2 separate regions of the Homo sapiens genome follow, and region 2 is linked to region 1. The links come from fine-mapping of genetic effects on gene expression. A gene starts in region 1. The other region holds a variant in brackets. All regions are shown on one strand. Distances are from middle to middle. Region 1 holds the start of PAQR5 (progestin and adipoQ receptor family member 5). Region 2 overlaps PAQR5 (progestin and adipoQ receptor family member 5).

What was found. PIP is the estimated chance that this variant, and not a neighbour inherited with it, causes the effect.
Region 2: its variant is the best candidate, but not a certain one, in a credible set for the expression of PAQR5 in testis (GTEx, PIP 0.88).

The regions. Positions count from the first base shown.
Region 1 is chr15:69,297,287-69,300,150 of GRCh38, forward strand. PAQR5 (progestin and adipoQ receptor family member 5) reads left to right here and starts at 1,626. Exons shown (of 9, transcript NM_017705.4): 1 at 1,626-1,770. It overlaps PAQR5-DT (PAQR5 divergent transcript), which reads right to left and starts at 1,477. Exons shown (of 3, transcript NR_184010.1): 1 at 1,192-1,477.
Region 2 is chr15:69,379,328-69,382,228 of GRCh38, forward strand. It overlaps PAQR5 (progestin and adipoQ receptor family member 5), which reads left to right. Exons shown (of 9, transcript NM_017705.4): 4 at 556-683. Among named protein-coding and RNA genes, the nearest start is that of KIF23, 34 kb to the right of the region's middle. RefSeq lists a silencer at 2,162-2,343. The variant A/G (reference allele first, on the strand shown) is at 1,194.

The sequences.
Region 1 (2,864 bases):
TTGGGAGCCTCTTTATCTTCCCTCTTTAGTTTCTTCAAGGTGCACACACAGATACCTACAGCAGGCAGGAATCCAGGTGGGGCACCAGGCATCTCTGCTCACCTTGGCTGCTGGTGGTGGGGTGCCTGCCTGTGCTGTGCATGCTGCAGCTTTGGCAGGGTGGCCAATCAGTCCAGTGCCAGCCTTTGCCTCCCAGAGAATGCTTCACACCCTATTCTTCCCCCAAACCCATCACTGGCCCAGACATCAAAAGCACACATCCCTGTGCTATTCCCCTTCAAAGAGCTTCATATCTAATATCTCACTGAGTCCCCCGACTAGCCTTGGAAAGGCAAAGCAGGGATTATTAATCTCCATTTTGTAGATGGTGAGGGTCTTGTCCAAGGCTACTCTGAATTCAGCATAGAGCTGGGACTGGGCTCCACTCTTGTGTCCAGTCATTCTTGTCAAACTCTGGTCTGTGGAATATACATGCCTGCCTCTGTGTAGGCCCCAGTCTCTTTCCCTTTAAGAACTTGGGTCTGAGAGGACAAGCGCATGTCGCACGCACACACACACGCACATGCATACACACCCTTACAAGATGCACAGCCACCAAAAAGCCTAATAAAGCAAGGTGCCCAAGACCACGGTTCAGGATCCGTAAAAATGGCCGGAGATAATTGACTGCAACCTATTCACTGCAAATGGGGCAACTTGGGCCCACAAAGGGCCAGAGACTTGACCCGAGTCACAGAGTAGACTAGAGCCCAGGTCTCTGGACTCCCAGTCCTGTGCTCTCTCCACTGTGTGTGCCCTCAGCAAACAAGGCAAGGCAGGGAGGAGCAGGAGCTCAGAGAGCCTGGGGCTGAAGGGTGGGAGGAAAGAGCCTGGTGGGGGACTTCGGTCCACAGGTGTGGATGTTCCAACCTTTCTCTGGCAGGGTCGGGGTGGGGGCACCAGGTAGCTGCAACCTGTTCCTTCAGCACCTGGGAGGAGACACAGAGTCTGGTTCCCTGAAGCCAAATGTTTCTTCTTTGTCCTCTGTGTCCCTTCATCTCTTATAGCTGTGTCCACTGAGTGGCAGAGGTCCAGGCCCAGCGCCTTCCAGTCTAGGAGCCTGTGACCTGGGACAGGATCCCTGGGGAAAGGGTGAGGGCTGGCAAAGGGCCCGCCACCCTGAGCACTCCAAGAGACAGGGGTGGAACTCACTTCAAGGATTCAGGGCGGCGAGGATCCTCTCCCACCGGCGAAGCGGACACCGCGGTGGGGCTGCGAGTACCCAGTTGTTGTTTTTTTCTCCTTCCCTGTTCTCCACCCCATGCACTTTTCCGAGGGGCAAGCTCCGCAGTTCTCCCATCAAGGAGGCTCTCCAGGCTCCCTGCCGGCCTTCGGCTCCTGGGGTGGAGGTGGGCGTGGGGTACATGGGCCCTAGGAGAATGGGGTGTGAGAGACTCCCCTGGGCTTATGGCTTTGGTGGCACCTCAGGCTGTGGAATGGGGTGGCGAGTCTTTGGAAGTCACAGAGCCCAGGGTCGGTGGCACGTGATGAGGCGCAGGCCTGGCTCAGGGGGTGGTGCCCACGGCCCTCGGCTCCTCCCCCGGGGCCGCCCCGCCCCGCGCGGGAGGGGACGGGCGGGGACCGGCATGGGTAGGCGCGGCGACCCGCAGGGCCAGGTGCAGGGCCCGCGAGTCCGGGGTCGCCGCAGCCCGGGAGGAGTGTCTGGTCTCCGGCCTGCCTGTGCTGTCCCCGCGCCCTGTCCACTGGACTCCCGAGACCCTTGGAACCCAGGTAACCCGGGGCGGGACTCCCCGCCGCGCGCCGCCTCCCCACCTCCCGGTCCACGCGCACCCGCCCTCCGCGGCAGCCCCAGCCGCCCTGCGCCCGTGGAGCCCGTTGAGCCTGGGTGGCCGCTCCGAGGGCGGGTCTGGGAAAGTTTGTGCCGGGGCGGCCCTGATCCGGCGGCGGCGCGGCTCGGCCACTTTCACCGCACGCGGGGCCGGTGTGAAGGTGGGGCGGCCGCCGCCGTGCAGAAGGCTCTCTGCTGCAATCGAGGGCGGTGAGGGGAGCTGTTGCCTTCTCGCACCTTTTCTCTCACTCTCCAGGGCGTTTGCGCCGCTTATCCTTCCTCCACCGCCCCCCTCCCGCCGCCCCCACTTTAATAAAACCCTTGGATTGGGGCTGCACAGTTGGCGATTTCTTTACACCTGTGCTTCCCGCCTCCTGAGCCCAGATGTGAGCCTGGGCTGAGCAGGACCGTGTGGGTGAGGGGCGGCCCACTGCCTGCGGGGGTCGTCCCGGCCCTGTTGAAGTGGGTGCCCAGCTACAGGGAGTTCCCCCTGCTCTGTCATTGGCCTCCCCCCGGCCACAGCCCCCAGCTGGGCATCTCCTGGCTCCCCTAGCACTTCCCAAGTCCTAGTCGGATGAGCCCAGGAGAGGGGGTGGACCCCGGCCCAGCAGAACAAGAACTCAGGAGCCCGGTAACTCTTATCCGTGAGCAGAACCGGCTTCCTCCCGCTTAGGTTGGGAGGAGGGCTCAGCTTAGTGGGAGTCGGGGGTGACAACTGCCCCTTCCCACGCAGAGCCATAGAGAAGAGATGGGGAGAGGTCAGGGGATCTGAGAAGAGCTAGCAGCCAAAAAGGGACACATCCCTGATTTCATTTGAACCTAACAAACCAATGGCGAGTAGATATTAACACATGGGCAGATGAGAAGACAAGGAGGCCCAACAAAGCTCAGCCATTTGCTGGAGAAACTGGTGGGCTTTTCTCCACCACTGAGTGGCGGGTTTCCCACCGCATCCTTCCAGAGCTGCATGGTCGCTTCTGCATTCTTGCAGTGCCCTTGACTCAGCAGAGGTTTGTTTCTTTTACCCCACTCCCCA
Region 2 (2,901 bases), 82 kb after region 1:
AGCAGCCGTGCTGTGGGCAGCCACCTCCTCTTCCTGCAGCCCAGGCATCAGCATCGTGGTCCTCATCATCAAAAGCCCTTTATGAAGCACCTTGGTGAATATATCCTGGCACCGGGGGCATCTTCTGCAGAGTTCTTCCCACCAGCCCCTGACATGCAGGGCTTGCCAGCTCAGACAGACAGCATCTGTGTCAGCTCACCAAAAAGGCGTCCAAAAACTGGGCTGTAGGCCCCAGGCAGAGGGGTGAGAAAACGGATTCTTAGGCAAGATTCATGCCAAGAGTAAGTACGCCGGGGAATGCAAAGACAGGCTGGATTCCCAAAGGGAGCCTGGCCCTTGAATTCCCTCCCCCAGCTAGCTGGAGGCTTCTTGGAGGACAAGGGATTTTAGAAGCTACTGCGAGGGAAGGAGAGAGTGAGGGGAACAGCTTAACAGGTTAAGGACTTGGGGTCAAGCGTTCCAGGCACACAGAGCACGGCCTGGAAGATGTTTCTCCAGAGACCTTCGTGCCACCCTCTGGTCTCACCTCAGTGTCCTTTTCCTTTGCCTCTGCAGGTGTTCCATGAGCAAGGCATCCTGTTCGGCTACCGCCATCCACAGAGTTCTGCCACTGCCTGCATCCTCAGCCTTTTCCAAATGACCAATGAGACTCTCAACATTTGGACTCACTTGCTGCCCTTCTGGTACCTTCTGGCCCCCTCGACCGGCCTGTCTCCTTCAGGAGCCCTGGAGACCAGGGTGTCTTAAAACATGGCTAGTGTTGAGAGGGCTGAGATTCTGTGCTGGGGTTTGGGGATCCCCCGTGGGTACACGCGGGTGAAGGGAGTGTGTGACAGAGGGAAGAGACATTGGGTGTGCCACTGGGATGACCTTTAAGGCATGGACTGGGGTAAGATTTGAGGGGAAATCCCAAAAGTGCCTCAGTCCTTCCTGCTCCCTGCTCCGGTGCCTGATATGATAGCATTTACCTTCATCTCCGGTCTTGGAGACTTTCCAGGTCTTCCAGGAGCCCTGGTTAAAATGTCACTAGTTTGAGCAAGTCAACCTCTCTGAGCCTCTCATTTTCCTACCTGCAAAGCAGGAGTGATGGTCCGCACCTCCCCAAGGGTTGCTGTGAGGGTTTGGGGAGAAAACATTGGTAGAGGCATCTGCCACAGAGTTGTGGGTGTTCCGTAATCATTCTGGGAACCACG[A/G]CAACTGGGAGGCACTTGGTCAGGCAGCCTGTAGATGGAGCCAGCTAAGAGCAAAGCTCTGGGAAGCCTGTATGCAGAAATGGAAGTGGCCAGGGAAGCGAAGAGGGGCCTTGCTGAGAAAGGTGGGGGATGAAGGCCAATGTCACACACTGCACACCTTTGCTTAAGGAATGGAGGATGGAGACAGGGTCAAAGCACCAAATCACAGTGGATCTGAGCTGGAAGAACTCAGAGGCCATTCAAGCCACTGTCCCACTCAGACCACCACTGGTCGATGTAGACACAGCCGAGAGACGGGGTGGCGTCCTTACGTCATGCAGGGGCGCCGTGGCACAGGCTGGTCACTGGACTCCCTCCAGTCATGTTGAGAAGAGATGAGGAGTGTGCCATGAGTGGAGATGGGCCCAGGCTCCCCGCACAGGGGCAGCCAGCCTGAGTAGAAGTCAGATGACAGACCCGGGGCCAAAATGCAGGGGCAGGCTGTTTGGTTCCAGCAGCCAGCTCAGTGGAGAGGGGAGAGAGCTCAGTCTGGTGTGGACTAGGGTGATCTGTAAAGGAGTGTGGCAGCCCTGGGCCTGCGGACTGGGCAGGGGTGGCAGCACAGCCCTGCTCCAGGGGCCATTTGTCATTTTTAAAAGTATACATGCTTACAAATTATAACCCTTCAGAAGGGAATAGAGTCAGGCTCTGCCACTGGCCCCAGTTCTCCTCCCTGGAGTGGCCAGGGGGACCTGCTTCCTATGCGTCCTCCTGGAGCTTTTCTGGGGGACCCAGGAGCATCTGTGCTGTGAGCATCCACAGCATCTGCCTCTTTCCCTGCTGCCTTCCTCTTACTTCCCTCCCTTGGAGATCTCACTCTGTCAGCATCTGCAATCTGCATGTCTCCTGGACTTTGGAACATCTGCTTGGTGTTCCATTTTCTGGATGAATCATGGTTGATTTAGGCTGTTTTGAGATTTGAGCTGCTAAAAGGGTACCAGCCTGTCCATCCCTGCTTGTGGGTCTTGCACTCCATGCATGGATCCCTGTAGGGTGATTTTTTGCTATGTTACAGCTGAGCCAAGCTGGGTGAGCCGCACCCCCATCACCTCCAGCACTGCCTATGCACTTCTACACGGTGCCAGGCTCTCAGAGATGATCCTGACTGAGCAACAGAGAGTAGCAGGAAGGACTTGGGGAGGTCTGGATCAAGATGCCCTAAGGAAATGGGACCACTGAAAAATTGAAATAACTGAAGGATACATTTTGAGAAACAGCAAATAGCTTAAGCTTTACTTCCCGCTGGGACAAAATTAAAAAGTCCACAAGTGTAGCTGGAAGGATTTAGCAATGTTCCTTCAGCTCCTGCATATGAAAAGCTTTGTAGAGTCTCCTCCCTTGGAGGAGTTAGTGAGAAAGGGAGCCAGCTCTCTAGGAGTGATTTGTGGAAGCGAGGTGCTCTGCAGGCGGGACCTCATGCGTGGATTGTAGGCCAGGCAGACCTGGTGAAGAATTTTGAAGTGTCTCTGCATAGAGATCTAGGCTCTGCTAAGAGTCAGCTGTGGGACTAGCTATTCCGAAAAGTGATTGTACTCTTAGTGGAGGAACAGTGTGGAGGAGGAGGGAGAAAATAGTTCTCTTGGCCTCGGCTTGCAAGGCTCCACCTGGGGCATTGCTTCTATTTGAGGAGCCTTCCTACAAGAGGGACATAGACAAACTACATGGAGGA